Linked DNA regions of Homo sapiens. The protein of the gene in region 3 interacts with the protein of the main gene of each other region in a pairwise test. Each region holds a gene or a part of one and is shown on either strand. Other genes may lie near its edges. The genes, in order: NBPF19, PISD and DAGLB.

Region 1 (3,653 bases), on a different chromosome or scaffold from region 3:
ATGGAGCTGAAAACCATGGCACGAGAACTACGTGATGCATGCACAAGCTTCAGTAGCCAATTCGATCAAGTGCAAGAAACGGTATCAGTGATTCAAGATCAAATTAGTGAAATGAAGCGAGAAGAGAAGTTTAGAGAAAAAAGAGTAAAAAGAAATGAACAAGCCTCCAATAAATATGGGACTATGTGGAAAGACCAAATCTACGTTTGATTGGTGTACTGAAAGTGACGGGGAGAATGGAACCAAGCTGGGAAACATTCTTCAGGATATTATCCAGGAGGACTTCCCCAACCTAGCAAGGAAGGCCAACATTCAAATTCAGGAAACACAGAGAACACCATAAAGATACTCCTCGAGAAGAGCAACCCCAAAACACGTAATTGTCAGATTCACCAAGGTTGAAATGAAGGAAAAAATGCTAAGGGCAGCCAGAGAGAAAGGTTGGATTACCCACAAAGGGAAACCCATCAGACTAGCAGCAGATCTCTTGGCACAAACCCTACAAGCCAGAAGAGAGTGGGAGCAATATTCAACATTCTTTTTTTTTTCCATATGTATAGTTTTCCTTTATTATTTTTTGTGTGTATGTATATATATATATATTTTTTTTAATACTTTAAGTCTTAGGGTACATGTGCACAACGTGCAGGTTAGTTACATATGTATACATGTCCACATTGGCGTGCTTCACCCATTAACTCATCATTTAGCATTAGGTATATCTCCTAATGCTACCCCTCCTCCCTCCCCCCACCCTACAACAGGCCCCAGTGTGTGATGTTCCCCTTTCTGTGTCCATGTGTTCTCATTGTTCAATTCCCACCTGTGAGTAAGAACATGCGGTATTTGGTTTTTTGTCCTTGCAATAGTTTGCTGAGAATGATGGTTTCCAGCTTCATCCATGCCCCTACAAAGGACATGAACTCATCATTTTTTATAGCTGCATAGTATTCCATGGTGTATATGTGCCACATTTTCTTAATCCAGTCTATCATTGCTGGATATTTGGCTTGGTTCCAAGTCTTTGCTATTGTGAATAGTGCCGCAATAAACATATGTGTGCATGTGTCTTTACAGCAGCATGATTTATAATCCTTTGGGTATACACCCAGTAATGGGATGGCTGGGTCAAATGGTATTTCTAGTTCTAGATCCCTGAGGAATTGCCACACTGCCTTCCACAATCGTTGAACTAGTTTACAGTCCCACCAACAGTGTAAAAGTGTTCCTATTTCTCCACATCCTCTCCAGCACCTTCAACATTCTTAAAGAAAAGAATTTTCAACCAAGAATTTCATATCCAGCCAAACAAAGCTTCATAAGTGAAGGAGAAATAAATCCTTTACAGAGAAGCAAATGCTGAGAGATTTTGTCACCACCAGGCCTGCCTTACAAGAGCTCCTAAAGGAAGCACTAAACATGGAAAGGAACAACCGGTACCAGCCACTGCAAAAACATGCCAAACTGTAAAGACCATTGACGCTAGGAAGAAACTGCATCAACTAACGGAAGAAATAACCAGCTAACATCATAACGACAGGATCAAATTCACACATAACAATATTAACCTTAAATGTAAATGGGCTAAATGCCCCAGTTAAAAAACACAGAATGGCAAATTGGATAAAGAGTCAAGACCCATCAGTGTGCTGTACTCAGGAAACCCATCTCACATGCAGAGACACACATAGGCTCAAAATAAAGGGATGGAGGAAGATCTACCAAGCAAATGGAAAACAAAAAAAGGCAGGTGTTGCAATCCTAGTCTCTGATAAAACAGACTTTAAACCAACAAAGATCAAAAGAGACAAAGAAGGCCACTACATAATGGTAAAGGGATCAATTCAACAAGAAGAGTTAACTATCCTAAATATATATGCACCCTATACAGGAGCACCCAGATTCATAAAGCAAGTCCTGAGAGACCTACAAAGAGATTTAGACTCCACACAATCATCATGGGAGACTTTAACACCCCACTGTCAATATTAGACAGATCAATGAGACAGAAGCTTAACAAGGATATCCAGGACTTGAACTCAGCTCTCCACCAAGCCGACCTAAAAGACATCTACAGAACTCTCCACCCCAAATCAACAGAATATACATTCTTCTCAGCACCACATCACACTTATTCCAAAATTGACCACATAGTTGGAGGTAAAGCACTCGTCAGCAAATGTAAAAGAATGGAAATCACAACAAACTGTCAGACCACAGTGCAATCAAATTAGAACTCAGGATTAAGAAACTCACTCAAAACCACACAACTACATGGAAACTGAACAACCTGCTCCTGAATGACTACTGGGAAAATAACAAAATGAAGGCAGAAATAAAGATGTTCTTTGAAACCAATGAGAACAAAGACACAACATACCAGAATCTCTGGGACACATTTAAAGCAATGTGTAGAGGGAAAATTATAGCACTAAATGCCCACAAGAGAAAGCAGAAAAGATCTAAAATGGACACCCTAACATCACAATTAAAATAACTAGAGAAGCAAAGCAAACAAATTCAAAAGCTAGCAGAAGACAAGAAGTAACTAAGATCAGAGCAGAACTCAAGGAGATAGAGACACAAAAAACCCTTCAAAAAATCAATGAATCCAGGGCTGGTTTTTTGAAAAGATCAACAAGAAAACCCTGTTTGGCTAGTTCACCTGGCTCATCTGATGGCAAGTTCCTATCTTGAGAGGACTATGAAATTAAAACCAATACAAGTGCCACAAATAACATACAACATTGTAAATCAGCACAATTTGTAGCTGGGTGAATGGAAGAAATAGTTCTATTCATCACTTCCTCATTTTCCCTAAATCTACAATCTCCAGATGTCACTACTGAATTAACAGCCAACAATTCCACAACATTACCTGGGAGACACTGGCCCTTTTTCTTCCTCTTCCTCATCATCACTTTCATTTTCTGTAAATAAATTCAGAGAAGCAGGTCACATTAAGCAATTCATACTTCACATATGAACAAATCACTGTCCAGTCATAGCACAAGGACATAACTATTCTCAGTGCAAGAATAAGGATTCTGACAGGAATATTCTAGGGTGTCCTAGATTAACTTTGGTGAGAATTAGATGACCCTGCTTTCCAGACCCACAGGCCAAAATCTCCCTCTACGTGTAGACCATAATGCCATATTCCCTGCCTGAGTCAAAGTTAAACAAAATTTTTTCCCCAAAAAAATCTCCAAAAATTGGTCAAACAATTTTCTAAGAGTGTTGCTGCGATACGGACTTATATCACCAGGTAACATGGACATTAAATGTTTAGAGGCATCTATACATGAAACACGACTGATAGATAAATTTTAACAACTCTTGCTTTAAAAAGAATCTGTGATTTGGGAGGCCAAGACAGGTGAATCATTTGAGGTCATGAGTTCAGGACTACCCTGGCCAATATGGGGAAACCCTGTCTCTACTAAAAATACAAAAATTAGCCAGATGTGATGTTGTGCACCTGTGGTCCCAGCAACTCAGGAGGCTGAGGCAGGAGAATCACTTGAATCTGGGAGGCAGAGGTTGCACCAAGCCAAGATGGTGCCACTGCACTCCAGCCTGGGTGACAGAGCAAGACTCCATTGCAAAAAAAAAAAAAAAAAAAAAAAAATCCACGATGCTACAAAGAAACA
Region 2 (3,653 bases), on a different chromosome or scaffold from region 3:
ACTCGTTTTTGTTTTGTTTTGTTTTGTTTTTGAGATGCAGTCTCGCTCCGTCACCCAGGCTGGAGTTCAGTGGCGTGATCTCAACTCACTGCAACCTCCGCCTCCTGGGTTCAAGCAGTTCTTCTGCCTCAGCCTCCCAAGTAGCTGGGATTACAGGCACAAGCCACCACACCCAGCTAATTTTTGTGTTTTTTTAGTAGAGACAGGGTTTCGCCATGTTGGCCAGGCTGGGCTCGAACTCCTGACCTCAAGTGATCCACCCACCTTGGCCTCCGAAAGTGTTGGGATTACAGGCATGAGCCACTGCACCCAGCCCAGGACTCATTTTTAAGTCCTTTCTTTCTCATCATCCACATTCAATCCACTGGCAAGGCAATGAAAACTACCACTGGCCAGGCTCAGTGGCTCACGCCTGTAATCTCAGCACTTTGAGAGGCTGAGGCAGGTGGATCACCTGAGGTCGGGAGTTTGAGACCAGCCTCGCCAATATGGTAAAACCCCGTCTCCACTAAAAATACAAAAAACTAGCCAGCCAATATGGTGAAACCCCGTCTCTACTAAAAATACAAAAAATTAGACGGGTGTGATGGTGGTGGCCTATAATCCCAGCTACTTGGGAGACTGAGGCAGGAGAATTGCTTGAACCCAGGAGGTGGAGGTTGCAATGAGCCAAGATCACACCACTGCACTCCAGCCTGGGCATGACAGAGCGAGACTCTGTCTGAAAAAAACAAAAAAATAAAGGCCGGGCATGGTGGCTGACGCCTATGAGAACTCCCAGCACGTTGGAAGGCCAAGGTGGGCAGATCACGAGGTCAGGAGTTCGAGACCGGCCTGACCAACATGGTGAAACTCCATCTCTACTAAAAATACAAAAATTAGCCAGGTGTGGTGGTCGGTGCCTATAGTCCCAGCTACTCAGGACGCTGAGGCAGAAGAATTGCTTGAATCTGGGAGACGGAGGTTGCAGGGAGCCGAGATCGCACACTGCACTCCAGCCTGGGTGACAGAGCAAGACTGCGTCTCAAAAATAAATAAATAAATAAATAAATAAATAAATAAACAAAACAGAAAGACAAGATCCCACATCTTGTCAGCCTCTCAGATCTCTAGCTACTTTCCCTCTCTTCCTCCTCACTCACTCCTCTTGCCGCTCCTTGTCCACACCACATGTGCCCCTTTCCACACTCCTCCATTTGCTGTTTGCTATGCTGGGCACACCCCTCTCCTATGTGGCTCACTCCCACATCATTTAGTTCTCTGCTCAAATGTTACCTCCTCAGTGCAGTTTTTCCTGAGCACTGTATGCCCAAGAGTTGGCCCTCTTGAACACTAACTTCTTAATTTTTAAAAAAAATTTTTCTGGGTATGTAGTAGGCATATATATCTATGTGTTACATGAGCTAGTTTGATACAGGCACGCAATATGGAATAATCACATTAGGTAAATGGGATATCTATCCCCTCAAGCATTTAAGCTTTGTGTTACAAACAATCCAGTTATACTCTTTTAGTGTTTTGTTTTGTTTTTTTGAGATGGAGTTTTGCTCTGTCGCCCAGGCTGGAGTGCAGTGGCATGATCTCAGCTCACCGCAACCTCCGCCTCCTGGGTTCAAGCAATTCTCTGCCTCAGCCTCCCGAGTAGCTGGGATTACAGGCACCCACCACCATGCCTGGCTAATTTTTTGTATTTTTAGTAGAGATGGGGTTTCACCTTCTTGGCCAGACTGATCTTGAACTCCTGACCTCGTGATCCACCCGCCTCAGCCTCCCAAAGTGCTGGGATTACAGGCGTGAGCCACCGCACCCAGCCTTTTAGTTATTTTTAAATGTAATAATTTTAAATTATTTTTGACAATAGTCACCCTGTTGTGCTAGCAAACACTAGGTCTTATTCATTTTATTTTATATATTTTTTTGAGATGGCATCTTGCTCTGTTGCCCAGGCTGGAGTGCAATGGCGCAATCTCAGCTCACTGCAACCTCTGACTCCCAGGTTCAAGGAATTCTCCTACCTCAGCCTCCTGAGTAGCTGGGATTACAGGAGCACACCACCACACCCGGCTAATTTTTTTTTGTAGTTTTAGTAGTGACAGGGTTTGTTGGCCACGCTGGTGTTGAACTCCTGACCTCAGGTGATCCACCCGCCTGGGCCTCCAAAGTGCTGGGATTACAGGCGTGAGCCACTGCACCCAGCCCATTTTATTTTTTTGATACCCATTAACCATCCCCATTTCTTCCCATCCCCCCACTACCCTTTCCAGCTTCTGGTAACCATCCTTCTACTATCTCCATGAGTTCAACCGTTTTAATTTACAGCTCCCACAAATAAGTGAGAACATGCAAAGTTTGTCTTTCTGTTGAGCACTAACTTCTTAATTATCTTGCTTTCTTTTTCTTCATGGCATTTCTTATTACACAAAATGAATGGATTCTGCATGTATTCAGTTATTTGTTTACTGTATGTATACCTCGATGAACACGGGGTTTATCTGTGTTCTCACTGGCCTTCAATCTCAATAGTGACAGTATGCCCCAGAAAGATGAATGGATGGGTTCAAACAGATGTCTCTTCTACATGCATTCTACATCGCATCCTTCAAGTAGGCAATTAAAGCCCACAATTGAGCACTCCAGTCTGCCTGTGCAACTCAAATCTCAGCGCTGCCACTTCTTAGCAGCTGTGTGACCTTAGGAAATTTCTTAACTAATCTTAAGCCTCAGTTTCTCCACCTGCAAAAACAAAACTCACCTCATTAGAAGACAATCATGCAAAACCTTAGCTCAGGGCCTGGCACCTAGTTAGACTGTTATTATTAAGAGTTGATATTCAGCTGACATACACTGAGATGGTCATATCAATCATCTATGACCAGCATTCACTCTCACTAGTCTGTCTCCATGGCATCCTGGTTATAAGTTTGTTTGTTTGTTTGTTTGTTTTTTGAGACAGGGTCTCACTCTGTCACCCAGGCTGGAATGCAGTGGTGAAATCACAGCTCACTGCAGCCTCGACCTCCTGGGCACAAGTGAACCTCCCACCTTAGCTTCCCAAGTAGCTGGGACCACAGATGTGCACCCAGCCATTTTTTGCGGAGAGGAGGTCTCACTATGTTGCTCAGGTTGGTCTCGAACTCTTGGGCTCAAGCAATTCTCCTGCCTCAGCCTCCCAAAGTGTTGAGATTACAGACATAAGCCACCACACCTGGCCAGTTGCACTATTTTTTCTTTTTCTTTTTTTTTTTTTTTTGAGACAGGGTCTCACTCTGTTGCCCAGGCTGGAGTGCAGTGGCATGATCTTGGCTCACTGCAGCCTCAACCTCCTGGGCTCAGGCAATCCTCCTACCTCAGCCTCCCAGGTGGCTGGGACTACATGTATGCACCACTATGACCAGCTAATTTTTGTGTTTTTTGTACAGATGGGTTTTTGCCATGTTGCCCAGGCTGGTCTTGAACTCCTGAGCTCATGCAATCCACCCGCCTTAGCCTCCCAAAATGCTGGGATTACAGGCATGAGACACCACGCCCAGGCCTAAGACATTTTTAACATCACCCCTAGTAGTAACATTTTGCCTATAGTCCTTATGTCTCCCTTGCTTTCTAAAGCTGTGAAAGTTCTCCTAAAACAGAACGGACAGACCTCTTGAAGGCTT
Region 3 (3,653 bases):
ACCTGAGGTCGGGAGTTCGAGACCAGCCTGGCCAACATGGTGAAACCCCGTCTCTACTAAAAATACAAAAATTAGCCGGGTGTGGTGGCGGGTGCCTGTAGTCTCAACGACTTGAGAGGCTGAGGCAGGGGAATTGCTTGAACCTGGGAGGCGGAGGTAGCAGTGAGCTGACATTGTGCCACTGCACTCCAGCCTGGTGACAGAGCGAGACTCTAAAAAAAAAAAAAAATGAGGAGTCCATGTCATCCTTATTGAAGGAGCAGTTTTGCCTGTGGGCGTCTGAGAGTTCTATTCAACGAAGGAGCAGGAAGAGTCAGGAATGAGTTCAGGTTTCAGGTCTCAGTGTGTTGATCCTCTGTGTCAGGAGTTCCCTTAATAAACAGTAGTTTTTGTCCTTCTCTTGTAGGAAGCTGATCTGGATGCAGAATTAGAAAACTGCCATCATTACATGCAGTTTGCAGCAGCGGCCTATGGGTGGCCCCTCTACATCTACAGAAACCCCCTCACGGGGCTGTGCAGGATTGGTGGTGACTGGTGGGTTGGCACAGTCTGAGCCTCCATAGCCATATTTCCCTTAAAAAAAAAAGCTATTTTGAGATATTTCAAAAATTTGAAAGAACAGTGCAAAGAACTCCCATGAATCCTTTACCTAGAGTCACCAGCTGTGACTCATCTGGTCACATGCGCTGTATCTCTCTCTCTCTCTCTCTCCCTCCCTCCCTCCCCCCTGCATATATATATATATATATATATATATATATATGCACATGTATTTTTTTTCCCCGAACCATTTTATTTTTCTCTTTTTGAGACAGAGTTTCACCCTTGCTGCCCAGGCTGGAGTGCAGTGGCGTGATCTCAGCTCACCACAACCTCCGTCTCCCAGGCTCAAGCGGTGCTACTGGCTCAGCCTCCTGAGTAGTTGGAATTACAGGTGCCCGCCACCATGCCCGGCTAATTTTCATTTTTTGAGATGGAGTTTCACTCTGTTGCCCAGGCTGGAGTGCAGTGGCACAATCTCGGCTCACTGCAAGCTCCGCCTCCCTGGTTCACGCCATTCTCCTGCCTCAGCCTCCCGAGTAACTGGGACTACAGGCGCCCGCCACCACTGCTGGCTAATTTTTTGTATTTTTAGTAGAGATGGGGTTTCACCGTGTTAGCCAGGATGGTCTCGATCTCCTGACCTCGTGATCCGTCTGCCTCGGCCTCCCAAAGTGCTGGGATTACAAACATGAGCCACCACGCCCGGCCACACCCGGCTAATTTTCTATTTTTAGTAGAGACGGGGTTTCACTATGTTGGCCAGGCTGGTCTGGAACTCCTGACCTTGTGGTTCACCTGCCTCACCCTCCCAAAGTACTGAGATTACAGGCGTCAGCCACCAGGCCCGGTCTCAGGTAATTTTTGTATGTTTAGTAGAGACAGGATTTCCCCATGTTGACCGGGCTGGTCTCAAACTCCTGACCTCAAGTGATCTGCCTGCCTCAGCCTCCCAGAGTTCTGGGATTACAAGGTGTGAGCCACTGTGCCCAGCCCCAGTAATACCCTTTTTAGCAATTTTTTTCTCCAATCCAGGATGATGCGTTACATCTAGTTGCTGTGTCTCTTTGGTCTCCTTCAAGTTTTAAGTTTCTCAGCCGTTCTTTCCTTTCATGATATTGACATTTTGAAGAGGACAGTGCAGATATTTTGTAGAAGGGCCTTCAATTTGCATTTGTGTGATGGTTTCCCCATGATTAGATTTATGTTTTGCATTTTTGGCGGGAATGGTCCATGACAACCATCCTTCCTAGTGTATCATATCAGGGGATACATGATGCCAGTTTGTCCCATTTCTGGTTATATTAACATTGATTGCTTGGCTGAGGTGGTGACTGCCAGCCTTGAGACCATTTAAATATCTTGTCCCAGGCCGGGCGTGGTGGCTCAGACCTGTAATCCCAGCATTTTGGGAGGTCGAGGCCAGCGGATCACTTGAGCTCAGGAGTTTGAGACCAGCCTGGGCAACCTGGCAAAACTCCATCTCACTAAAAATATAAAAATTAGCTGGGTGTAACAGTGTGTACCTGTAGTCCCAGGTGCTTGGGAGGCTGAGGCAGGAGAAACACTTGAGCCCAGGAGGCTGAGGTTGCAGTGAGCTGGGGTTGCACCACTGTACTCCAGCCTGAGTGACAGAGCAAGACGCTGTCTTAAAAAATAAATTAAATAAATATATATGTCTATATCCCACCAGGTGCAGTGGCTCATGCCTATAATCCCAGCACTTTGGGAGGCCAAGGCGGGCTGATCACCTGAGGTCAGGAGTTCAAGACCATCCTGACCAACACGGTGACACCCCGTCTCTACTAAAAATACAGAAATTAGCTGGACATGGTTGCACACACCTGTAATCACAGCTACTCGGGAGGTTGAGGCAGGAGAATCGCTTGAACCAGGGAGTTGGAGGTTGCAGTGAGTGGAGATCACACCATTGCCCTGCAGCCTAAGCAACAGAGCAAGATTCTGTCTCAAAAAGAAAAAAAAAAAAGAAACCAAAACAAAACAAAAAACAAGTAAGTAAATGTCCTATCCCTCTCTGAATTCTCATCTGGCAGTACAGCATCCATTGATTCTTGTCTGAATCACTTATTACCAGGATGGTGGCAAAATCATGATTTTTCTTTTTCTTTCTTTCTTTCTTTTTTTTTTTTTTTTTTTTGAGACAGAGTCTCAGGATCCTGGCTCACTGCAACCTCCATCTCCCAGGTTCAAGTGATTCTCCTGCCTCAGCCTCCCGAGTAGCTGGGATTACAGGCCTGCACCACCATACTCGGCTAGTTTTTTGTAATTTTAATAGAGACAGGTTTTCGCTGTGTTGGCCAGGCTGGTCGAACTCCTGACCTCAGGTGATCCACTCGCCTTGGCCTCCCAAAGTGGTTGGATTACAGGCATGAGCCACCGCACCTGGCCAAAATTGTGATTTTTCTAAATTCATCATTTCTTCTACATTAATTGTCATTCTCCTATAAAAAAGAGCTTTTTATCCCTACATCTTACTGTCAATATGGATTTATAGATTCTTAAATTATTCAGTGGGTTGTAATTATGACTGTTTATTTTGTATTAAGTACAGTGTTTATTTGATGCTCAAAATGTTCCAGATTTTGTCCTGCAGACTGGCTCCAGTGTTCTTTTCATATGACCCCATCATGTTCTGAGCACTTCCTAACCTCTGGATTTTGCTTTTTCTTTTTTTGGGACTGTTGCCCAGGCTAGAGTATAGTGGTATCATCACGGCTTACTGTAACACCATACCCTCAACCTCCTGGGCTCAAGTGATTCACCTGCCTCGGTCTCCCAAAGTCCTGGGATTACAGGTGTAAGCCACCACGCCTATGTATTTATTTTAAAGATCATGAGATTTTACTAATATCTTTTTTTTGTTTGTCTTTTAAGAGACGGGGTTCTCTCACCTCAGCCTCCCAAGTAGCTGGGACTACAGGCATGCACTGCCAGACCCAGATAATTTTTAAAAATGTTTTAAATTAATAAATTTCTTTTTAGAGACAGTTTTGCTTTGTGGCCCAGGCTGGTCTCCAACACTTGAGCGATCCTCCCGCCTCAGCCTCCCAAAGTGCTGGCATCATGGGTGTCAGTCTCCTGGCCCTGATATC

Evidence for each region.
Region 1: the proteins of DAGLB (region 3) and NBPF19 interact in a two-hybrid assay, tested with the Homo sapiens proteins (one large-scale study listed by BioGRID).
Region 2: the proteins of DAGLB (region 3) and PISD interact in a two-hybrid assay, tested with the Homo sapiens proteins (one large-scale study listed by BioGRID and IntAct).

What each region holds. Positions count from the first base shown.
Region 1 is NC_000001.11:149,481,452-149,485,104, reverse strand, and holds part of NBPF19 (NBPF family member NBPF19), read right to left. Parts: intron 2,931-3,653; coding exon 2,879-2,930; intron 1-2,878.
Region 2 is NC_000022.11:31,655,622-31,659,274, forward strand, and holds part of PISD (phosphatidylserine decarboxylase proenzyme, mitochondrial), read right to left. Parts: intron 1-3,653. UniProt on the Homo sapiens protein: Catalyzes the formation of phosphatidylethanolamine (PtdEtn) from phosphatidylserine (PtdSer). Plays a central role in phospholipid metabolism and in the interorganelle trafficking of phosphatidylserine.
Region 3 is NC_000007.14:6,427,361-6,431,013, reverse strand, and holds part of DAGLB (diacylglycerol lipase-beta), read left to right. Parts: intron 1-406; coding exon 407-534; intron 535-3,653.